Homo sapiens: one gene and its partners. The protein of the gene in region 6 purifies or fractionates together with the protein of the main gene of each other region. This does not show direct contact. Each region holds a gene or a part of one and is shown on either strand. Other genes may lie near its edges. The genes, in order: PGAP4, SEC63, VSIG1, EI24, RER1, KCNK1 and SLC25A4.

Region 1 (2,252 bases), on a different chromosome or scaffold from region 6:
CAGTGTGTGTGTTGGGAGTGGGGGGAGGATGGGTGTGAGGGATCTCTGCGTGTTTCTCTCAGGGGAAGGCTGGGTTTTCTCTTTCAGCCTACAGGTGTTGCTGCATGTTCTTGGGGTGGCCAATGGAGCACTAGACAGGAATACCACCCATGGCAGCTCTGCAACTTATTCTAAGACTTTTAGGGCAAGAGGCAGGAAAGAGTGAAGGAATGATCACCACATTGTACCAGGGGTATACCAGTGAGAGGTAAGATGATCTGGGTGGTAGCAGTGACCCCCACTTTTTTTACCCAGAAAAAGATGGATAAATGCTCTGACATTGCTGTGACCCAGGGATCTGTGGCCATGGTTGCTTGTGCAGGCAGCAGCCAATACTTCTGAATGGCTCCCTTGGGACTACAAAACTGTGTGTGGGCGCAGGGAGCCCATACTATTTGCCACATCAGAAAAATCCATTCATGAAAAGGAAAGACAGAGAATGATAAAAGTCTTCTCAGAAAGCCTTAGCAAAATGGGTGCTTTTATTTTCACAGACATGTCTATGCAATACACTCAGTCACAAGAGAGAGCTTCTTAAGCCTGACCATAATTTAAACTCTGAAAGGTGAGTGAGCCTGTTAAGAGACCTCCACCCTTCTAGTAACCTATATCCCTTGATATGGGAAGGATATCTTAGTTCTCCCTAGCCCCTTGCTTAGGATTAAGTGAGAGACTTCAGCTTTGGTGTAAAGCTGTCAGCTGCCCTAATCAAGGACAATACACAAAAATTAGACTCCTTATAAGAATAAGGGATTAAATGGAGGAAGATCTAGAAGTGGGTGGGAACAAAAGAGCAGAACTGAGCCTGCATCTGCAGAAAATGTCCAAAGACAACTGGCAGAGTTCACTCCATGGGGAAAAGGCATGTTAGTGTGTAGGTAGAGAAACTGGACAAGGAAGGATGGCCTTAGCCTTCCATAATGGAGAAGTCGGGCAGGGGATGTCTGCATGCAATAGACAACTGAATTAGAAAGAGCAGAAATGTAAACCAGCAGTGCTTCCCTATCTTGGGCCTGGCTAGCTTAAAGGGGCTCTACTGTCATTGGTCAAAAAACTTTCATGAGGAGATCCAATCACTAATGCAACAAACTCTAATGAGTTCTAAGTTGGAGAGAGCTCAGTTCTAAAGCTTGGGGGTAGACAGGTCACTGAGAGAGGAGGAATGAAGGAGTGGGATCTGAACATTGTAATAAGTCATCTAGTAGCTCTGATCACTTTGGACATTGCTGGGGGATACATAACAGCTCACTATAACATTACAACACATACTTATATCTGTTTGCTCCTCCAAACTAACATGACAATGTGTTTCTGCCATCTTAGCTTACAGAGACATGATCTAGTTCAGCTTATACTCAGATTTTACAAAAGAGACTTTGACCACATAGATATTCATAAAATTAATGTGGTTAAGAAAAAAGTGCAGGGGCTTGAAGTCAGAAGAGCTCCGTTCCCATTTTGGCTATGCTGCTGTTCAGGTTTGTGACCTGCAGAGCAGTTTAGCATCTCTGGGTCTCAATTTGTTCATCTGTAGAGCGTGGGTGATCAACCTTTATGTAATCCTTCTGTGTTGAGTGGGTCTCAAGATGGAAGCTCACTATGGGAATTTAAAAGCAAACTGTGGCATCGAAACAAACTGGACAATTGCTTGAACTCTAATATCATCATCCATCCTCATAAAGTAACTTGTTGGTCACTAGTCTGACAGTACTGTTAAAAGACATTTATTTGTAACTTTTGAGAAAATAATTTTCAGACTCTGATCTTAGAATAAGCTCATGAGGAGTCTCATTTCCAAGCTGGAGATCATTTCCAGTTTGAATGAACAATTCTTCTTTTTGGCTTGGGTGAACGTGGGGATAGGTGAAAGCTGAGCTGCACATCCTTCAGAGGTCACAATGAAAAGTCAGTCTTTATTCTAGCAGGGCTTGGTCATCTGGAATAGCTGGTACATAGGTGGCAGCTCCATGCCCTATCTCATACTTTAAACAACATCACCAATATCTTTTTCCGAAATAAGCTTGAGTTGTATATGTTTATTATAGGAGAGAAAAGTTTGCCAAGCGTCTTCTATGGACTAAGCACTTGCTAGGTGTTTTACATATATTCTGCCATTTAATCCTCAAGGCAACTTTAACATGTAAGTATTACTGTCCTCATTTTACAGGTGAAGAAATTGAGACCCAGAGTGATTATATGACCTGCCCAAGGTG
Region 2 (4,090 bases), on a different chromosome or scaffold from region 6:
CGCCTGGGCCTCCCAAAGTGAGCCACGGCAGGCGTGAGCCACCATGCCCGGCCAACCTCACTGCATTTTTAAGAAGATTAAATAAAGTAAAAGTTGAAGTCCATGATTTACAAATAGTATTAATTCCCTCCACCTAAACTACCACCACTTTTTCAAAGACACTTACATGCTGAAGGGGGTCAAGTATGACTTGTTGGCAGGGCGTGGTGGCTCATGCCTGTAGTCCCAGCACTTTGGGAGCCCGAGGAGGGCAGATCACTTGGTGTCAGGAGTTGGAGACCAGCCTGGTCAACATGGTGAAACCCCATCTTTACTAAAAACACGAAAATAAGCCAAGCCTGGTGGTGCACGCCTGTAATCCCAGCTACTGGGGAAGCTGTGGCAGAACTGCTTGAACCCAGCAGGTGGAGGCTGCAATGAGTCAAGATCAAGCCACTGCACTCCATCCTGGGCAACAGAGTGAGACTCTGTCTCTAAATAAATAAATAAATAAATAAATAAATAAATAGTATGATTCTTCTATGAAATCAGGTGAATTTTATAATACGAAACTCACCATGAAAATATGACTTTCAAATTTCAAAAATCCATCCTGACACAGTGGCTCAAGTCTGTAAGGCCAGCTACTCGGGGGGCTGAAGCGGGAGGATGACTTGAAGCAAGTTCAAGACCAGCCTGGGTAAATGAGACTCTCCCCGCTTTAAAAAGAAAAAAAGAACAACTTTAAAAATCCAATGTAGATTAAAAAATGATGGCTAATTTCTGAAATCAGGGCAGTTTCTCAAAACACTTTTTTTTATACCTTTGTTCTGCCTGATCAAAACACATTCTGGCCAAACCCACCGACTACTCTCCCAATACCTTTTTGTTTTCTACACTACCAATTGCACACATAATGGCTGTTAGGTGAAAATAAACTACTGAAAAGTGTACCCTTTTAACTTGAAATACAACAACCACAAGAATGGCCTAGGTTTGCAGATAAGAAAAGCCATTACAGCATTAAGACTTCACTTATACACAATCACTGCCCAAAGAACCTACCCAATTTTTTTTCCTTTTTCAACATCGAGGAAGAACCTACACAATTTAAATGCACTTAGGAAATAAGGCACAACAGTCCAAGATCCAAATTTCATAAACTACCCATTGAGTAAAAAAAGTATTAAGACTAGTAACTTTGGACAGATTTTTGCATCTAATGGATTTTTAAACTTATTGTCAAACGTACAAAATGATGCAATCCTTTGTTACTATTTATCCTAAATTTATTTTAGTTCTATTCCAAGTCAAGAATGTTAGTTTCCTGCAGATCACATGGGGCGGGGGGGAAAAAGAATGTTACAGGACACTGAATCCATCTGAAAGTATAACAAGTTCTGAGCTGATTCAAGGCTTCACTGTTAACAACTTCTCCAAGTAGAGTATATAACCTGGACAACCTAGACCTCCAGCACACCCAATTGAAGAGAAGATATTTAAGCAAGTTAGCACAGCTCTTGTGCAATAGAAAGCTTTCCCTAAGTTGTTAATACTCAAAACCCACTCCTTACTGTTAACACTACCATAAATAACCCATTAGGCCCTCGCAGTTACATCAGCTTTAAGAATACCATCTGCCATATGTCCTAGTAGAGTGCAACAAATGGATGCAAACATTACCCAAACATCAAGTGAAATATGAAAAGAATCTGTTATTCTGTGCTTTAATTCGATGTTGTTTAATGTGAAAAGACTTAGAACCAAAAGTAAATCGACCCACTACCTCAAAATTCCCTACAAGATTAATTAAACGAGACTTAATCCTTCATACTTGCACTTTTTCCGTCACAAACAGGAAACTCCGAAGAAAAGGAAATAGAAAAAAGCCTATTTTTGCTAAGAGGAATAACGGCATTGCTTCCAACCCCCACAGTGAGTGAACAAATGAAAAAGCAACGGGAGGAAGTGACGGGGGTAGGCGGTGGAAAGCTCAATTGGAGTCCTAAGCATGCCACCCGGCTCAGAGATGCCCTAAAACATCTGTTAAGAGCAGCTGCAACAGGGAAACCGGAGTCGGGGGATGAGGGCCGCGAACTGGACGGACTGAGAGTTGTGCCCGCACGTTCAGTCTCTTCTTGGCCAACTCTTTGCTCACCTCCCAAGTCCCCATCCCGCTTCCTCCATAAAGAAAAATCCCCAATAAAAGCAAAGGCAGAGAAGACAAAGAGGCAGGAGGAGGCTGCAAGGAGCGTCCACAACAATGGAGAAGATGGAGCGAGCGAAACTCCTGAGGACAATGAAGGGAGGTGGAGAAGCGCCGAGGGAAACGCTGCTGACCCGGGCCCCGCCAGTGGCGGACGCTGGACACAGGCCGGGCCGCACCGTCCCTGTCATCCCGGACGCCGCGGGCTGGGGCCGGGCAAGCGGGCGCCGCAGGGCCTGGGGGCGCTGGCGGGGCCTGCGCGGGTTCGCGGGCAAAGGCCGGCGGGACTCACCGGCATTCTGATCTCGGGGCCAGAGGTAGTATGTCGCCGGGATCACGATGAGCCCCACGAAGGAGGTGAGGAAGTAGAAGAAGGTGTTCCCACTGTCATCGTACTGGAACTGCTGCCCGGCCATGGCACCCCCTCCTCCGCCTCGCTCTTCTCACCGCCGCCGCCACGACCACGCTCTGCACTCCCGCTCCCAACGCCCCGGCCCGAGTGGCGTAGCTTGGACACTGCCGCCGCCGCCTCTCCTCCCCGCCCCCACGCCACTCTCACGGACACGCCGCCGCCACCTCTGCCGCTGCCGCCGCCGTCGCCAGCTCTCGCGAGAGGAGATAGTTCCCGCCCCGCTCAGTTTTCCCTCCCCCTGCGTGTCCCCAGCGAGCTCGCTAAGGGAGACGTGGCGAGCGCAACGGTGGAACTCGGCGAGGTCTCGCCCTTAGCCCCGCCCTAACGTCAAAGCCCTCCCCCAACCCCTCCCCTAGGGTCCCGCCCCTAACCGCTCCGCCTTCCTCCACCGCTCAGTTTCCCAGCGCACCACGCCGGATTCCGGGCGTCGGCGTACAGGATCCCAGAGAAGGCTTCCCGCCGGAGCAGCGGTCGCGGGCGGTTCACCTGGCTGCGCAGGGGTCCCAGATATTCAGAGAAGAGCTGAGGCTCAGCCTGTCCTGCCCTCTGGATTAATTGCCCTGGTTGATCACGTTTCCTTGGGTTCTGGATCTGCTCCTCCAGCCCCCATATTTTGGAAACAAGTGTCATTTAGAATAGGGGGTGGGAGGCCGGGCACAGTGGCTCACGCCTGTAATCCCAGCACTTTGAGAGGCCGAGGCGGACGGATCATGAGATCAGGAGTTCGAGACCAGCCTGACCAACATGGTGAAACCCACTCTCTACTAAAAATACAAAAATTAGCCGGACGTGGTGGCGCGCGCCTCCATCTCAAAAAAAAAAAAAATTGGGGGATGGGGAGGTGTGGGTTGCGGGAGGTGTGGGTTGCAGTTGTGTTTTCAAAGCAATGTTTACTATCTGGCCGGGCGCAGTGGCTCATGCCTGTAATCCCAGTACTTTGGGAGACCGGGTGGATCATGAGGTCAGGAGTTCCAGACCAGCCTAACCAACATGGTGAAACCGCGTCTCTACTAAAAATACAAAAACTAGCCGGCTGTGGTGGCACGCGCCTGTAATCCCAGCTACTCAGGAGGCTGAGGCAGGAGAATCGCTTGAACCCGGGAGGCGGAGGTTGCAGTGAGACCGGATCGCTCTCCACTGGGCGACAGATTTGAATCTACGCTGTGCCCATCTTGCAGATGAAGATTTCCCCAAGCCGTTACAGATGGTTCCCTACCCATTCCAGAGCTGCTAATTATAACCACCAGCTTCAGGCGGTAGGCTGAGACCTTTATTGTTTTGTGTCATTTAGTCATCAGTAAACCCCATGGAATAAAGCAAAGTATGTCTGCTCTACAAATGAGAAAATTGAGGCCCAGAGAGACTGCCCAAGGTCCCTCACAGTAAAAGAATGTCTGAGGATTCAAACCCATATCATTTTGATGCCACAAAGCCAGTGTGCCCTTGACCCTCCATCGCCCAGGACCTTAAAATTTCCTGACAGTGACTGGCAT
Region 3 (3,500 bases), on a different chromosome or scaffold from region 6:
GGCAGGCTAACATGGAAATTTGGGGTGGTCTGGTGCCTTTCTGGTCACACAGATGGCTTCATCTTCCATCCAGTCTGTTAATGCTAACACTACAGAGACCCCACCTGTCCCTGAACAGACCATGCCTTGACTCTGCTTAGCATGAATCTCTCAGACAATACTTATTCTTCAAGAATGTTCATAGTGAAAAAATACCCTTTGCCAGTCTCATAAACAACTTAGACAACTTCTTTCCCAGGACCTAGTGTTCTTATGTTCTCTGGCTTCTCAGGTTTTACAACCTGAAATACACAGGACAGAGCCACACAATAAAGAGTTGTCTGCCCAAAATGCCAGTGTCACCCCTACTGAGAAATACTGCAAGTTCTTCCCCACCCCACCATCAAATTTATGTATTGTGTCCCATTCACTTTCTGCTAAATCTGATAAATTAATCTCATGGTAAGGTGTTAGGGACTAGCGAAAGCTTATTTTATTCTCTTCTAAAGAATGCATTGAATGGGACCTTCCATGCCTTCTTCCAAAAGGAGCAACTCAAATGGCAGATACCCAGGCAAATGGAGGGTTGGTAAGAGAGTTGGTTTGGAAGCAAGAGAGTCTTTCTTTTGGTATCCCATTCCTTCCACATGCCATCCCTGCACCACAATACAGTCCAAATAAAATTCTGAGCTTGTGACCATTGCCACCTTATACCTGCACACCCCTTCCCTATCCTATGGCTAGCCCCTCTATCAGCAGTACAAGAAAGCAAGAAGCTGGAAAGGAAAGAATGGGTGGTTTGCTGTGGATGTCCATGTCCTCCACCTTCCCAGAAGGAATCTGCAAAAGCAGCTCTGGAAGCTAACTCCAACTCAGATTCAAACAGAAAGCAGACTGAATTCTTTCAACCCTTCTTGTTTATACTCCATGCTTCTAGTTAGAGAGCAGTGTCACTAAGCTGAGGAAAAAGTCTTTTAGGACAAATCTGGTTCCCAGCTGCACGGCCTTGTGTGAATAGGAACTTGGCACAGTAGGAAGGGAAAGGTTGCTCTGCAAAGAACTGAGGGGCCTACAATTGCAGCTGGCAAATATTGAGGGCATCATGTGGTGAACATACTCAGCATGGGAAGCATCATGCCAATAAATAGCAACAATTGGCAGGAGAAAGGTTGGGCTGGAGCAGGGAATGGAATGGTCCCAAAAGGAGAAGGTTGCCCAGGAATCATCTTTCTCATCTTAAGAAGCACTGTGAGTGCCATCTTAATATATTCAGTGGGAATCAGAAGGTCTGAATTCCAGGTCTGACTGTAAATTGTGTGACCTTGGGAAAATGGCTCCCTCTATTGAGGCCTCGGTGTCCTTTTTTTGTATTAGAAAAGGATGAATTCGAGTTTACTAACCGCAGGCCTCTGGGTCAGATTTGGCCAGTGGATGTATTTCAGTCGGCCTGCCCAGTATTTTGTTTGTTTGTTTCAACAGTTCGAATGCCTTGTTTGCGTTGACTTTTCCGTTCCCTGCAGTCCCCATATCTGTTATGAGCTTACCACTACTTACCAGCCCCTCCCAGCCATTTCCCATATTTCCAATATCCATCGGGCTCCTGAAGGCCCCTTAACCTTAGAAACCACAAACCAAACTATCTCACAGAGGTCTTATAATTAATGTGCAATTATGACTCCACCCATCAGCCTCTAGCGTCACCCTGGGGGCAGGCAGAGAGGACCTTGGGAGAAAGCAGGGCAGTCTACCATGAACCCAAGCACAAAGTGCAGGTGGGTAAAAAATTAACAAGCGCCCCTTAAGGGAACACTGGGATGGATTTCCTTAAAAAAATCACCTCCTCCCCACCTCCACCCAAAGATGTGGCCCATTGTACATCCGGGGCTTTTTCTGGATCTCCATTGCTTTGACGTCTAAATTGATAATATTCTTTCTTTGAAAAGTGTACAAGCCACACAGGATCATGGGCCAGGCTTTGGCCACTGTTCAGCTTTGATTTTTAAAAGAGTTATTCTTTTATGGAAAGTGGAATCAAGTTGTAGCCCTTCCTATATGATTAGATAAGCAGTTTCAGGAAAACACTTCTTTCTTTTTTTCTTTACAAGGACAGTGTGACTGTGTGGACTTCCCCTTAACAGAAAGCCCCTCCATGTATGTGTCTGGCTGCTGCTGTCTACCCCTAGGTACTTTACTTCTTACAGAGAACTGTGAAGCCAAAGCCTTGGCTCTTTTAGGTCTCCATTGTTAGCCCTCACTACCCCCATTTCTGTCTCTAATACCTTTTAGTGTCAATCGTGAGAGGGCAAAATGTATTAGACTACAGCATGAGGAGCTAGCATGTAAGAGGTAGTAAAGGTCTTTTTCATGGGTAAGGTTCCAGGGCCTCATTGCTTATATACTCATTTCACCTTGACTCATGCCCAACTATGGGACTTTTACAGTGGGCATGGACACATGGATACAGTGGACACTTTTACTTCTTCTCATATCCTAATTCTGGCCTAAAACACACCATTTTGGCCTCAAGATCTCTGCAGAAATAAGGTCCTTTTCACCTGGATCCTCTGGGACTTGCTGTGGGCCTCAGGCGTGACTGATGTTGTATCTCATTGTGATGTCATCAAGCATCAGTATAAAACAGGGCTGATGTTTTACACTGTCCACAGTCTCCTTGGGAGGAGGGGAAGTGGCCAGATGTTGAGGCTGTGAAGGGCACTCTTGATGGACAGCAGGCTGAACTCCAGGTAAGAAACAACAAGACCTCAAACTGTCAATTAGAAAGTAAATAAGCCCCATGCTGCCTAGTGAAATTGAAAGCCTGATAGCGTGGGTGCCAACTCAAATGAAAGTAATCCTCTGATGTATTGAACCTCCTTCTGTCCCACTTGAATACCTGGAGTTAATCCTGGCTTTCTGGTTTGGAAGTCAAACAAGACCATTCTGGGGCAAGAGTTTGTGATTTCAGTAGGTGTGAATGAATGAATTATAAATGGCTGCATTTATAATGCAAGCAAGAAAACACGTTGATGTTAGAAAAAACGGGAGAGAAACAAATAGTTTTCTCTGTAAATGTACTCTTTTCCTGGGATTTTTCCCTCAAAATCCAGCTTTCTGCCTTAGTTTTAAAATATATTGACTTTCTGCTTAAAGGAGAATACATTTGAATTCATCTAGACAATATCTTTTGGTTTTCTAATTGCTTTCCCTCTTTTATTGGCCTGTTAAGGTAAAGCCCACAGTACAAGGAATTAGGAAAATTGGATTCCAGATCTGTCTCAACCGTCAATTTTGCCTTTTATTTTTTAACCTCTCTGGGCTTTGGTTTCTTCTGTAAACTGAGGGAAGTGAATTAAATGAACTGTAAGGCCTTCCAGTAGATTTTATGAAAAATTAGTCTCACCAGACTAAGACAATACAGTTTATTGAACAATAACAATCACTTGAATAATATACATTTACATGAAACCAACAAAACATGTACATAGAAGGTGTGTATTATGAAGGGACCTCAGGAATTACCT
Region 4 (3,500 bases), on a different chromosome or scaffold from region 6:
CCAGGCTGGTCTCAAATGCCTGACCTTAGGTGATCCGCCCACCTCGGCCTCCCAAAGTGCTGGGATCACAGGCATGAACTACTGCGCCCAGCCGACCCGTCTGTCTCTTTAAAAAAAAAAAAAAATTAGGCATAACTATAAAAAGAAAAAAAGTTTCCACCTGGCAGGACTGGAGAATAACCAGAGTAGCAGAAAAAAGCAGGTAAATTCATGTTTCTTATAATTTTATAATGTAATTTTAAAATTCTCATTTCCGTGGGGAAAAAAAGATTTAAAAATCATTACCTCCCACCAGCATATATATAATACTCTGTATAAATATAATACTCTGTCTTTGTGAAGTTCTCTCTAGTGAAACAGTTTTTCTTTTTAATAAAGCTGCCCATATGCCCAGAAGGTCAGTCTCACCTGAATGAGGAAAAGAGCCTGCAGCAAAAGGTTGAAGAGCATGTCAGCAATTATTTTGCTGACACTAGGGAATGGGTGAGGCTTCCTCCCTGATACCTCAAATGCCAGGTCAGCTATATCCTGTAACAGAGAAAGTGTACCAAAACATGAATTAAATGGCCTTGATATACATCCCCAAAGCTAAGGCCACTAGTCCGCCACTAGAGCTGCCAGTTAAGAAAAGGCTTATTTAAAAATAAGCTGGGCACGATGGCATGTGCCTATAGTCCCAGCTACTCAGGAGGCTAAGGTAGGAGGATTGCTGCCTTATGCCGTGGCTCACGCCTATAATCCCAGCACTTTGGGAGGCCGAGGCAGGCAGATCAGCAGGTCAGGAGTTTGAGACCAGCCTGGCCAACATGGTGAAACCCTGTCACTAATAAAAATACAAAAAAAATTAGCCAGGCATGGTGGCACGTGCCTGTAGTCCCAGCTACTTGGAAGGCTGAAGCAGGAGAATTGCTTGAACCCGGGAGGCAAAGGTTGCAGTGCACTCCAGCCTGGGCGACAGAGTGAGACTGTCTCAAAAAAAAAAAAAAAAAAAAAAAAGCCAAAACGAAAAAGAAAAGGCACCAGACACCTGCCAATGAGATGCTGAGACAATAATTCCATTCTGTAAGAACACAAAGATCAGCTACTGGCTACCTGGCCAAGAAACATTAAGGCTGAAAAACAGGTCCCCCTACATGCCCACTAACTTCACAGGCTGAAACTTGTCACCTGTCAGCCAATCATGCTGCGGGACCCAGACTCCATTCTGCCCTGGACCTACCTGAAACCAAATGGCATTCACCACTTTGCTAAGCACAAACAAGGGGAGCACCCAAAGAGCACTGAAAATTGACGTGAGGAAGAATTCCAGCCACGACCAAACATCTCCATGTAGTGATGGGTCACCTAAGAAAGAGGAAACGAGTTACTAGAAATGGAGAAATGGAAATCCAGAAGACCAAATGCGGAACCCCCATCTCGTGACTATTCTCTGTCTCCTCCTGGATCTTTCTAGTTCTTGCCAGCACATCACTATACCTATCTCAAAGAGTCTAACTCATAATAGACGCACCACATTCTGGCCACAATTCCAATTCAAAGAAACCATAGATATGTGCTGCTTGACACAAACCTGCTTACATGATGGTAACGAGATGCCACAGTGATTACCAGTACGCTATCTGCAGGATACCATCTGGGTTTAAATCTCAGCTTTGCCTCTTACTAATGGTTTAACCTTGGTAACTTGCATTTCCTCATTCATAAAATGGATAGAACAACAGTACCCATTCTTAAAGGGCCTCTAGGAGAATAACGAAATATAAATTTTTAAAAAGAATAAAACAACAAAAAAGAAAATAAACAGTGAAAGCTCCTGGTACACAGGAAATGTTCAGTAAACTGAGGGAGACTGAAACATCATCTCCCACTCTGTCCCCAACAGACAAGGAGCAGGGTATACACTTACCGATAATTCGGGCTGTTACCGACTGAAGCACAGGAATAAATACTCGATAAAACAAGAGGAGACTGAACTAAAGAAAAGAAGCAACAAGGCAAACATCAAAATCCAGTCTTTAAAACAGGAGCTTCAATTTTTAGTGTAATGATTTTATAGATGGGAGTGACTTTTATAAATCAGGAGGCCTAGGCCGGGCGCGGTGGCTCATGCGCGGTGGTTCACTTTGAGAGGCCAAGGCAGGCAGATCACTTGAGGTCAGGAGTTCGAGACCAGCCTGGCCAAGATGGTGAAACCCCGTCTCTACTAAAAATACAACAATTGGTCGGGTGTGGTGGTGCATGCCTGTAATCCCAGCTACTGGGAAGGCTGAGGCAGGAGAATCGCTTGAACCCGGGAGGCAGAGGTTGCAGTGAGCCAAGATCATGCCACTGCACTCCAGCCTGAGCAACAGAGCGAGCCTCCATCTCAAATAAATACATAAATAAATAAATAAAATAAATCAGGAGGCCTGAAAAAGCACCAAAACTGGATCCATTTCTATTTCCCAACACTCCAATTGAGAGATACAAACTTGATATTGCCTATAAAACAATGAAACTTTTGGGGGCATACAGGAACATTTCAAGTAGTATTCAGGCCAAAATACAGGCATGTACTAAGTACACAGGAATACATATTAATTAAATTTAAAACTAACATCTGAAAACATCTGTGAATTGTTTAGATTAAGAAGTGATGAATTACTCTAAATTCTAAGTCAAAGGAAATATTTATCCATTCTTCAAAGTACCCAAATTTCAGTTAAGCCTGCACTGGGATTCTCAGTAAATGGTAGGCAATCTTTTCTGCTATAGGTTTCAATGCAAATTAACTCTTGTTGATCACTATAAGCAGAAGCAGGGAGAACCTTGTTCTTGTCTAGCCGTATCTGCCCTTCCCGAGTCCCCATAGTTGCTGTTAGCATTTTAAAATGTCTAGACAGTGTCAAGAGAAACTGCTACCTCTAATACTTGTGAATGAGTCATTTTAGAAACAAAATTCAAGTGTATATTCAGGGCTGTGACGTTTGCTTACATATAAGTGTGCTTTCCTGAGTGGGAATAAAATCTCTGCAGATGCACAGACTCCTGAGTTATATTTCTAAGTGTACATCAGCAGATGAAAACTATTTGTCTCAGTGTTTCAAGAAAACAGTTCATAGCTATCAACCCAGCAACAATCTGAAGATGCTTATAAGGCACCTGGAATTTAAAGAACTTACCCAGAACACTCCACCATTCCAAGCACAACACTGGAAAATTCTACTAACAATACGTGGCTCACTGGAAAAGATCACATGTATTTAGTTTATAAAGCATAAGTTATTTCCTAATTGTCATTCAGTAGTTCATTTTATATCTTATCTTTTGTGGGTACTGTATTATTTTTCAGTGCCTCATGTTCTCCCAATGTTCTAATGTCAGTCAATGAGAAAAGACTAAAAAAATGGTCAAGCGCAGTGGCTCACGGCTGTAATCCTAACACTTTGGGAGGCCGTGGTAGGCGATCAACTGAGGTCAGGAGTTCGAGACCAGCCTGGCCAACATGGCAAAACCCTGTC
Region 5 (3,500 bases), about 230 Mb from region 6:
AGCTTTTCCAGTCAGACGGCTGAACGCCAGATGTGAGGGCTAACTGATGTCTGTGTGTCCATCCCTGGCTGAACGCCGGATGTGAGGGCTAACTGATGTCTGTGTGTCCATCCTCGGCTGAACGCCGGATGTGAGGGCTAACTGATGTCTGTGTGTCCATCCTCGGCTGCAGGGCCACACCTGAAGAGACGCCAAATGAGGCACGAGCTTGGTTTCGAACGCAATAAAACTGACCTGTGGGTGCTGCACTCTTCCCGCCCCCTGCTCCTGCCTGAAGTCCCTGATTCAAGATTTCTAGGTCATTCTTTCCATCAGAGAATGGACCCAGTTCCAATTTAAAAACAAAAATAAATAAATAAATTAAGGTGTGTGCTTTAAACAAGGAAGTATCTTCTACAGTCCCCAGAGGAGAAAATAGCCCAGACAAGGCTTTCAACATGCCCTGCTCTGCACATAAGATTATGTAACCTCCTCTAAAGACCGACGAAGAATTCCCATCTTACAGGTTTGCTCCTAGAAACCCCGTGTTTACCAGCAAGTAAAGGAGCACCCAGGTGAAGTCTGAGACGACATCACCTGACCTAGGGGTGCCCGAAAACACACGAAGGAAACCCTCAAGACCCCCTTCGGTCACTGTCTCTCTTACTTGACTCGGCGTCTCAACCTGCACTGTGCTTTGGCCTCACACAAGGGAGAGCTCAGGAAAAGCTACATAAACCCTTTGGACGCCGAGTCATTCATGACACCCAAGGCATGGACTCTTCACCCAAGGAATGAGGCAGCCACAGAGCGCAACCTTGTCCTGAGCATCATGCAGCAGGGTCGGAGGGACACCAGCGGCTCCACTGTCCAGGCCTGGACGTGCCCAGGGCAGGGCCAGGCTGGGCTCAGGACGGCCTGGGTATACTGAGAAGCCTGGCGAGGCGACTCCGGGTGAATCATAAACAACCCTGTTCGTTAAAGACAGTCACTGAGATCTTTCTGACATTTGGCGTTTAGCTGAAAATTGATTACTAGAGACCACTTCCTGCAAGACAGACTGGATCAACAACATCCCCACAAACATCACGCCCAGGTAACGTGGACAGAGCCAAGTCTCGTCACTTCAGCCCACACCTACCTGCAGCAGGTAAACTCGAATCATGTAGACAAAGCTCAGGCCCAGTGTCACGACCCATCGCACAGCCGTGTAGGGTGTGGACTTGTCTAGCCAGGACTGATAAATCTAGAAAGACAAGAGTCCAAAAGCATGAAGCAGGTCCTGTAACTTCTGTACTGACCCTGCCACAAAATGTACCTTCTGCTAGGGTTGGCTTTCAATTTTTAAAACAGCTAAAAGAGTGAGTTAAAATAGCAAGAGATCATCTATGTATCAGCACAAAGAAGTGACTACAATTAATCCAAAGTTTATTTTCAATAATTCCTGAAGCAGGTTCATCTCTTAAGCAAGACTATTACAAAACAATCTCCTAGGAGACTGTGACATTGTGCTGGCCCCAAGGGATCACTATGGGGAAGACCCAGCCTCACCCCAAAGAGAGGACTGTGCATCTCAAAGTCCCCACCCTACAGCACAGCCCTTATCGTCACATCTCAAGTCAGCTCCCCCATCTGCAGCAGCCAGCAGCCAGCCTTGCCCCGCTCCCAGGCCCACTGGCCACAGCCTGAGCCCCAGCAGCCACACCCACATGTGTGTGCGTCCAGGCGGCTGTGGACATGACCGAAGGAGCCCTTAGTTTTATGTATTTATTTTTACAAATATACATATGTATGGTTTTTTATTTTAATTTAGAAATTTAATTTTCAAATTGTGAGAAATTTCCAAATTCACAAAAGTAAAAAGATTATAGAAGCTTACATATGCCTGTCACCCAACTTCATTAATCGCCAATCGCTTTTCATATGTGATTTAATTAAGGTGATGAATTTTTATTTGAGCCGGATCCTCAGCACCTGGAACTGCCGGTGACCCAAGCTTTTCCTGACAGAGGTTCGGACTCCAGCGTTCAAAGGCAGCTCTAGGTCCCTCACTCACCAAGCAATGCACACGCAGCCCACACAAGAGCCTCTCACCCTCAAGGACAGAACCGCCGAGCTGACACGGGGCAGGTGGGGCTACCAGCACCGGGGACGTGGGTGGCTGGGAGAGGGACAGCAAGAGCAGAACGGCAGCCACGGCCGCATCTGTCCTGCCTGGGAGCTGAGACTGGGTTTTATATTTTTAAAGCTTGGTAAAAGGAAAACAGAAACAGAAAACGCATATGTTTGATAGACCACGTGTGGCCCCAGAGCCCGATCTCTCCACAGCTGGCCCTTCACAGTGAAGAGAACGCTGTCTTCAGGAAGTTTGAGCCTGAGGCGAAGTAACTTCTCCATCAGGAACACCAGCAAACAGATCCTTCCCGAAAATGCTGGGAGTCCCGTTTCTTTTTCAAATATTTATACTCATCTACTAAAAAACCCACCAACCTGTCCAAGTCTTGTGAAAAATCTGTACACCACCGAAGGTTTCCCATGGACGGATTCTCCCACACTGTCCCCTTCAGACATTCTGTAACTGGGAGAAAAACACAAAATACTTTTCAGTAAAAAGCATTCACGGGTGTGAAATCCTGGCCCTATTTTCACCAACACTGTCAAGTAGGTTTCTTCCACATTCAGTATTTTGTCCATATACCATTTGTGTTTTTACCATGAATTGTTCGGGAAAAAGTAGCAGGTACACAGGCTTCCCTGGAGAGGAAGGGCAGCGTGAGACGCATGGGCCCAGGAGCACAGGCCGCATTTTCATTCCCACACTGGCACCTCAGTCACCTGCGTGGGCGGGACTGTCCACCCCACTGGCCCCAGGAGCAGCCTTGCTGGCCATGGGGTCCACTGGCTGGTCCATGGCACGTGGCACTGCATGTCCTCCCTCCAAGGACCGCACCCTCTGTGGATCCCTCAGGGTTCCCCCGCCCAGGCACCTTGTCTGCTCCACGCCCTGTCCTGGGTCTCTGGTCTGGCAGGAGCAGGAGGGATCCTGTCCTCTCAGGGCCAGGTCCTCCACCCCATGAACAGGAAAATGTTATCTACAACTCTCAGGTAGTCCATCCATCTGCGTCCCAGTTTCTTATCTGGCAAGCGGAGGTAACGTATCTGCTCCTATTTCAACACTGCTGTGATGCCATGAGGAATTCACCTGAGAACCCAGGTGCCAGAGGTCACATTGTTCACCCACTTAATTCCCAGATGCTCAAGTGAAGGGCATCATGACCCCCATTTCACCAAGTCTCAAACAGTGGAAGCCACGTGTCCAAGGTCCTGCCACAGCCCTGCTTCTGGGCAGGCCAAGCCAAGCCTGACTGCCACCTGGCTCCTCAGCTGAGCACGCCGCCACCCCACTCCTGAGAGGAGACGGCGTCAGGACCTGCCGCTCTTCGGTAAAGCACAGCTCAGTACCCAGGGCCTGCCGGTTGTCATTCCTACTTTAAAGATGAGAGGCCTCCTGGCCCCTGAGC
Region 6 (4,133 bases):
ATTTAAAATATTGTTTGTTTCCAGCACACAATTTAACATCTCTTTATTTCCCCTTGTAGGGAAGAAAAGATTTCTCACCCATTATAAGATTCATGGCCAGGGCACCTATGATAATTTGAAGACTTTAAAAAACATCAAATGAATCAAATAATGGGTAATTATAATTTTGAAACCTTAAGAAATATCAAATGTGTCAAATAATGGGGCAGTACAAAGCCAACAGAAGAGTACTTTTCATTTAGAATAGTTGTATTCATATAACAAGAATTCATTGATGTGCTAACTTTACAAACCAAGAGGCACCTTTTTCATTTAGTTTATCCTTAAGTGCCCCTTGCACTGATTTCTTAAATGAACACTTGTTTTGCATGAATACAGACTTTCTTAGGAACTACAAAGCAATCTGAATACCAATAATAAGACGTCTATTCCCACCCCACCCCTTTCTTAAACAGAAACTATCCCTTTTTCTAATTCTCCTCTGGGAAGAATATTTCATCTATTCAAGATTATAAACTAATTTTTAACATTTAATTAGACAATATGATGTTAAGACTATACATGAGTCACGAAAAATCCCACCCAGATAAAAGCAAACCTTTTTCCTCAAAACTGTTCTTATTCTTGTTCTATCCTCACAATATCATTAGTAAGAAAACACCACACGCTATAAGCATCCTTCGAAATGTTTACCCAACATTGTGACCCAGTTGTAAACTTTCTGTAGCCCCATGGAAACACTTACTTCTGGGAAGAATGAATGACTCTCAATATAGCACAAATATACTCCAAAGGAAAGGCATGGTGACTCCTAAATGATCTGAGGAACAGAGGACTAGGTAAAGACAATGGAGGCAGAGTTATGGAAAGAAAAATTAAATTGTATTGGCAAGGGAACAGGCATTCTTTGGAAAGTGAGATAACAGGTCTGTCTTGTCTAGCGCTACATTTAACAGTTTTTTAGATCTCACAATACAAGCTAGAATTCCACTTCTGTTTATTTCAGGGTAGATTTACATCAGTTTAGTAATTCACCCCAGACCTCTGAATAATTGTTTCATGTGATCTACATGAATAGTGTATTATTACTCATTACCAAGTAATTACCAAGATAGTCAACAAGATATAGCCCAAAGGGAATTATACACAATAATTTGGGTGGTGGAGGGGGGTGGGGAGGAAGGAAGAGTTGGGAGTCACACAAAGGGATGTGATTCACCTGTAAAGGTTGAGGGTGGGGGGTTACAAAGTGGTCCTGGCAGAGAAATCACAAGGCCCAGGTTCCAGGACGACACTGGTAACTAGGAAGTGTGTGACCTTGTGCATGACGAGATGGATTATTTCAAAGATTGGATCTCATAGATCAAAAGAAGGGACTGTGCTGAACGCTCTTTCAGATTCCTCCCACTGTCCAAATACCAATTGATATCTCCACTCTGGGTATGTGCCTTACTAGGTCCGGCTGGGGAAATTCGGCCTTCATTCATCTGATCTGGCACAGTGACCGAGCCCTGGGGCATGCGCCCGGCCTCATCTTTCACCTGAGGAGGCTCCTCCATGGCCGGGCGCCCCGCGGGTGAGTCGTACGGGGACGTGGCGCTTCGAAGTTTATGGGGAGCCTCGCACACCTCAAGTTGAAGGAACTGCTGAATCAGGGTGCCCCAATTAAGTCAGATCTTAGGCAATCCTATGGTTCCTTTACTCTCCCTCACCCTTCCTCCTACTCTGAAAAGAAACCGGATCGGCCTGTCCGCCCAGAGGTCACCTGGGAAGAGCAGAGTGATGTCACTCGGCTACCCCCAAAACTGCCTCCAAGGTACAAAAGAGCTGGAATATCTGTGCATGGTCCAAAGGGACGGCACACTCCGGAAGGTGACCCTTTAGAAGGTATTATTACCAGACTGCAGCCTCGGCCTCTGGGATGGGTGCGGGAGGAAGGTGGTGAGTTTCCATCATCCCGCTGCCTTGCCGCACGGCGGCCAGGTGCTGCTACACATTCAAACCCGACAGTTTGGCTTAGTGGGTTGCGAAAAAAGAACTCAAGGGGAGGAAGCACCTGCAGCCACCCAGGCCGAAGTTAGGGACCACTTCCCCAGAGTTACGGACGGCAACAACCAAGTCACGTCTGGAGTCACCTCTCTGGCTTCCGGCTCCGCAGGGCTTGCCCTCCCGAGTCACCCAGGCAGAGGCCGGGGACGCCAGTAAGGGGAAGGTCGGAGGGTCGGGAGGACAGTGAGGGGAGGCGGGCTGGAGGAGCCGGGATGGCGAAAGGTGGGGGGTGGGGTGGGAGGGTTAGAGGGGCCCGGGGCGCCGGGGCCGGGGTGTGTGGGTTGTGGGCGAGGTGGCCGGGGCGGCCAGGGGGCGCGCAGGATACCCTACCTGTGGTGGAGAGCACGGTGCTGGCGAAGAAGAGCGCGGAGGTGAAGTCCCAGTTCCAGTTGCCCGAGGCGTTGCTGAGCACCGACACGCCGTAGTTGCTGGCCTCCAGCACCCGGCCCAGGAACTGCTCCAGCTGCTGCTCAGACAGGCACTCGTGCTCCTCCAAGAAGCGTCGCTTCAGCTTGCGCAGCTCCTGGCGCAGCAGGTCCTCATAGGGCAGCTCCACCGAGGAGAAGACCACTGCGCCGAAGACCAGGTAGAGCAAGTAGCCCAGCACCAGGAAGCCGAAGCACCAGGCCGAGCGGTGCCGCTCCACCAGGCGCACGCACGAGCTGCCGGCCAGGGACTGCAGCATCTTCTCCACCGCCGCCGCCAAGGCCAACGCCGCAGACCGGCCGGAGCGCGGCCCGCCGCCTCTTCTGGCCCCGCCGCCCCCGCCCCCGCCCGGGCCTGGCTCCCGCCCGCCGCCCGCTCCCCCGCGCGCCCGCCCGCCCCGCTCCTCCGGGCAGCGCCGTCTTCCTGCGATTGGCTCTCTCGGGCGATGTTTTTCTTCCTTCTTTTCCTGTTTCCTTGCAATATAAAAAGCCCAGATGATGTGGCGCTGACGTGGTTGCCGGCTCAGGTAACCCGAGAGTCAGCGGAGACCGCGCGCAAACTTGGCCAGAGCGCCTGGGCTGGGCTGCCGGGGCCCGGGACGCACCGCCTTCTGCGCACTCCAGAGGTGGGGCGGGCGCTCGGTGGCGCCCAGACCCCGACCCGACAGCCACCAGCTCCTCCCGCTCCCTCCCTTCCTGGGTCCAGTAGCCAAACTCTAGCTGACCGCGCGCGGCGTGTGCGTGTGTGTGTGTGTGTGTTCGCGCGCGTGTAGTGTGGGCCGCTTCTGGTCAATGCGCTGGCCGTCCAAGCCCCCTGTCCAAGCTACTCTTGTTTCCCACTTATTTTCTCCCAATCAAAGCCAGTATTACAAAACAGCAAGCGCTGAAGTACTTTCCTTCTTTGTCTTATTGGTCGAAGGATTGAGCAATCTGGTGCCAGTAATGACGGTGAAAATACCAGAACATCAGAGTTGGAAGGCTCCTTGAATCAGTCTCCTCTCTCCCACCCATCCCCCTCACAAAAAGGACTTGAGGGAAAAGGAGAGTCTCAGAGAAGTCCTATTTCTGAGTTCGAATTTTCTAAAACATGACCTTAGGTTTTTTGGTGAAAAAACATCCCAAATGTGTCAACTGCCAGAAGAAACTGAGCTTTCCCAACTGTCACTTCTTTTTAAAGTGACAAAAATGTGGGCGAGGGTCAGCGAGCCGCCTGCTTGTGGATGAAAATAAAAATTGGTACACCCTTTCTGGAAAGGCAATTTAGCGACACGTCTCAAGAACCTTGAAAGGGTTTATTTGTTCTGATTCAGTGATATGTCCTAAGAAAAAACAATCAGAGAGGCACTTACTTACAAAGACTGGTCATAGACGGTATCTATATATACATACATGTAGTTGTATAATATAGTGCATACACATGTGGGACACACACACACACACACACACACACACGGTATAGATGAAATAATGAAGACTCAGAACAATCTAAATATTCCAAAATAGAGAATGGTTAAATAAGTTATGGCATCTCTACAGCATGGACACCATATAGACATTAAACACATTAAAGTTGTGTCTAAAGACTATTGAAGCAAAACTGTGTAGAATCTCAAATATGTAAAATATTTGTATTTTGTTACAAAATAAAATGACATCTGC
Region 7 (2,309 bases), on a different chromosome or scaffold from region 6:
CTGATCATTAACACTGAGCTCATGGCCCAGGCCTGAAGACAGCTGATCTGACACATGTGTTTTCCACAAGGCATGTCTTAGCCCTCCTGTGCTGAGGAACAGCATTCTGCTTGGGGGCCATGTTAATTGGCAATGATTGTGCCTTGGATAAACTGCATTTTGGCCACTGCACAAAGCTTGAGGGCCTTTTTAAACAGCAGAATTTCTGTAGCACGAAGTAAACATGTGAACAGGATGCTTGTTTACAGGATGAGGCTGAAATGAAAAGGCGGGGTAAGTGTCACCTTGTTCCACTGCAGCTAGGGATGTGTGTCAGGCAACTTGAGTTTGTCATCATTCTGTGTGTCCAAGGACCTTAAAGTGGTTACAAATGAAGTTTGGCAGTGAAGCCAGTTTACAGATATGTAATCTGTGAATGAGATCAACTGTACTTTATTGTGGATTGATAAAATCTCTGATATTGAGGAGGAGCAGAAAAGCAAAGAATTTGTGACACGGTAGACTTTGTTAAATTTTATTTAAGGGCTTGACATTTGCATTTAAGGCAGCCGTAAGTTTTTATTCATTGCATTATACGACTCCAACAAGCCTGTCCAGCCACCCCCATGGTGCTTTGCACGTTCAAGATTTCACCCGAACTGATGAAACCCTTTCCCAAATATTTTGTAGGTTCCCTGTGCTTTTTAGATGCACTTTCCCTTCTCGCTCACTCTTCCATTCAGCAGAAACTTGCTAAACACCTTCTCTGTCCTGGGCACTGTACCAGGTGTGGAAGATAAGCTCGCCTTGCGGCGCTCGATTCTCTTGCAGCCTTGCACCTTGGGGGTGTTTAGTAAATGCCGCCTCAACACAAAGGATGCCACATATTTTACAGAATAAAATGGAACGGGAGCAGTCGCCCAGTTAATTGAGATTTCAACACAAATACTTGAGACAAGTTTTCATTGTTTTTAGTGTCCAATTATTACCATTATGGACTCACTCATCTTGCATCATCCTCCATAATTTTTCTCATACATTTAAAATACAAAATAAGGTCTTAAAAAGATGTAAAATGCCAACAGGTGAGGCTTTAGGGGAGAAAATACCTAAAGGTGATTGGGGTGGGGGTGGTGGTGGTGAAGGAGGGCTGCGCCTAGGAGAGAGCTGTGTGGGAAATGGGGCTGATGAGAAATGCCTGGGGCAGGTACCCGAGAGTCGGACGCTCAATTCCAACTTGTCACTTTTACGTAAACCAGACCTTCCAGCATGAGGCAGCTTTGCACAATGATGGTATGGCGTGCGGGTAGGTTAGTGAGGGAAGTACTGCCTGTTCTCCCGCCAGATCCCAGCACTCTCAGAGGCTGAGGGTTCTAGGAATTCATGGTGAGTTAAGTAGCTGCGGTGAGGAACTAGCTCAGCAGGGCCTGGGGCAACGTGCATTAGAGGTAACCTTCGCAGGAAGCGGAAGGGCTGACATCTGGGTCACATGCAGAGAATGTAGATAATGTGCACTATGTAATAAATGTCCATGCCTCTTCCCTCCCCATTCCATGCCAGGGTTAAAGACGGAACACAATTACACTTCTTGGTTGGGTTGGGAGGACGCACTGTTCATTCATTGTATCAGGTCTTCCTCCTCCTAAACTTGGGCCCTGCTTGGAGATACGCTCCATCAAAGCACTTGCCCACTACTAGCCTGCCCTGCTTTTATTCCCTATCAGCAATAGAGTTTGGATCACTTAGAACGAAAAGCAACAGGAGGACAATGGATCCAGGAGGCCTCTTAACTGCACATGTGCTGCCTGGCCTCGAGGAGACAGGATGGAGAGGTACCTTCTTTTTAGCCCTTTAGACTTTATTGGCCTAGATATCTACCAGGTGAGGTCAGATGTGATCCTGGATTTTATAAAACTCAGACCTTGGTAACTGTGGTAAAAGCAACACAGCCAATTTTTAGCTGGGGAGGCAGGAGTGAGTCGGTGGAAGGGCTTGGTAAGCAAGGTAAAGAACAGGAGGTACAGAGACCAACCCCCACCACCCAACCACCTGTCAGAAAACACAGAGAAGACATTTGCCTGCCTTTCAAGCTTTGCCAAGGATACAGGGACTTGCTTCCTCCAGATTAGTCACAATCCAGGAGACTATAGCAACTGCTTGGTCTTTTCCTGGTCCAAGTGTGAACTTTCCAACCTGATAGTCTAAGTATTTTCCTCTGGCTCGCAAATCTCGGAGGAGCAAATCCAAAACTGACTTCCTGTAGGTCTTGATAAATTGTTACAGAAGTACTGGAGGATGCTTTCTATACCCATGTTTCTAAATCTGGTTAT

The links.
Region 1: the proteins of KCNK1 (region 6) and PGAP4 purify together in Homo sapiens (affinity purification with mass spectrometry; one large-scale study listed by BioGRID and IntAct). This does not show direct contact.
Region 2: the proteins of KCNK1 (region 6) and SEC63 purify together in Homo sapiens (affinity purification with mass spectrometry; one large-scale study listed by BioGRID and IntAct). This does not show direct contact.
Region 3: the proteins of KCNK1 (region 6) and VSIG1 purify together in Homo sapiens (co-immunoprecipitation; one large-scale study listed by IntAct). This does not show direct contact.
Region 4: the proteins of KCNK1 (region 6) and EI24 purify together in Homo sapiens (affinity purification with mass spectrometry; one large-scale study listed by BioGRID and IntAct). This does not show direct contact.
Region 5: the proteins of KCNK1 (region 6) and RER1 purify together in Homo sapiens (affinity purification with mass spectrometry; one large-scale study listed by BioGRID and IntAct). This does not show direct contact.
Region 7: the proteins of KCNK1 (region 6) and SLC25A4 purify together in Homo sapiens (affinity purification with mass spectrometry; one large-scale study listed by BioGRID and IntAct). This does not show direct contact.

Annotation. Positions count from the first base shown.
Region 1 is NC_000009.12:101,472,670-101,474,921, forward strand, and holds the end of PGAP4 (GPI-N-acetylgalactosamine transferase PGAP4), read right to left. Parts: 3' UTR 501-2,252; downstream 1-500. UniProt on the Homo sapiens protein: Golgi-resident glycosylphosphatidylinositol (GPI)-N-acetylgalactosamine transferase that catalyzes the N-acetyl-beta-D-galactosamine transfer from an UDP-N-acetyl-alpha-D-galactosamine to the 4-OH-position of the first mannose of the glycosylphosphatidylinositol (GPI) of a GPI-anchored protein (GPI-AP).
Region 2 is NC_000006.12:107,955,409-107,959,498, forward strand, and holds the start of SEC63 (translocation protein SEC63 homolog), read right to left. Parts: upstream 2,801-4,090; 5' UTR 2,602-2,800; coding exon 2,478-2,601; intron 1,856-2,477; exon of another isoform or gene 557-1,855; intron 1-556. UniProt on the Homo sapiens protein: Mediates cotranslational and post-translational transport of certain precursor polypeptides across endoplasmic reticulum (ER). Proposed to play an auxiliary role in recognition of precursors with short and apolar signal peptides.
Region 3 is NC_000023.11:108,062,065-108,065,564, forward strand, and holds part of VSIG1 (V-set and immunoglobulin domain-containing protein 1 isoform 2 precursor), read left to right. Parts: intron 1-2,645; coding exon of another isoform or gene 2,646-2,723; intron 2,724-3,500.
Region 4 is NC_000011.10:125,575,977-125,579,476, reverse strand, and holds part of EI24 (etoposide-induced protein 2.4 homolog), read right to left. Parts: intron 3,223-3,500; coding exon 3,162-3,222; intron 1,974-3,161; coding exon 1,907-1,973; intron 1,742-1,906; exon of another isoform or gene 1,571-1,741; intron 1,345-1,570; coding exon 1,220-1,344; intron 529-1,219; coding exon 409-528; intron 1-408. UniProt on the Homo sapiens protein: Acts as a negative growth regulator via p53-mediated apoptosis pathway. Regulates formation of degradative autolysosomes during autophagy.
Region 5 is NC_000001.11:2,394,841-2,398,340, reverse strand, and holds part of RER1 (protein RER1), read right to left. Parts: intron 2,558-3,500; 5' UTR 2,551-2,557; coding exon 2,470-2,550; intron 1,226-2,469; coding exon 1,121-1,225; intron 1-1,120. UniProt on the Homo sapiens protein: Involved in the retrieval of endoplasmic reticulum membrane proteins from the early Golgi compartment.
Region 6 is NC_000001.11:233,612,773-233,616,905, reverse strand, and holds the start of KCNK1 (potassium channel subfamily K member 1), read right to left. Parts: upstream 2,801-4,133; 5' UTR 2,735-2,800; coding exon 2,380-2,734; intron 1-2,379. UniProt on the Homo sapiens protein: Ion channel that contributes to passive transmembrane potassium transport and to the regulation of the resting membrane potential in brain astrocytes, but also in kidney and in other tissues.
Region 7 is NC_000004.12:185,148,574-185,150,882, reverse strand, and holds the end of SLC25A4 (ADP/ATP translocase 1), read right to left. Parts: 3' UTR 501-2,309; downstream 1-500. UniProt on the Homo sapiens protein: ADP:ATP antiporter that mediates import of ADP into the mitochondrial matrix for ATP synthesis, and export of ATP out to fuel the cell.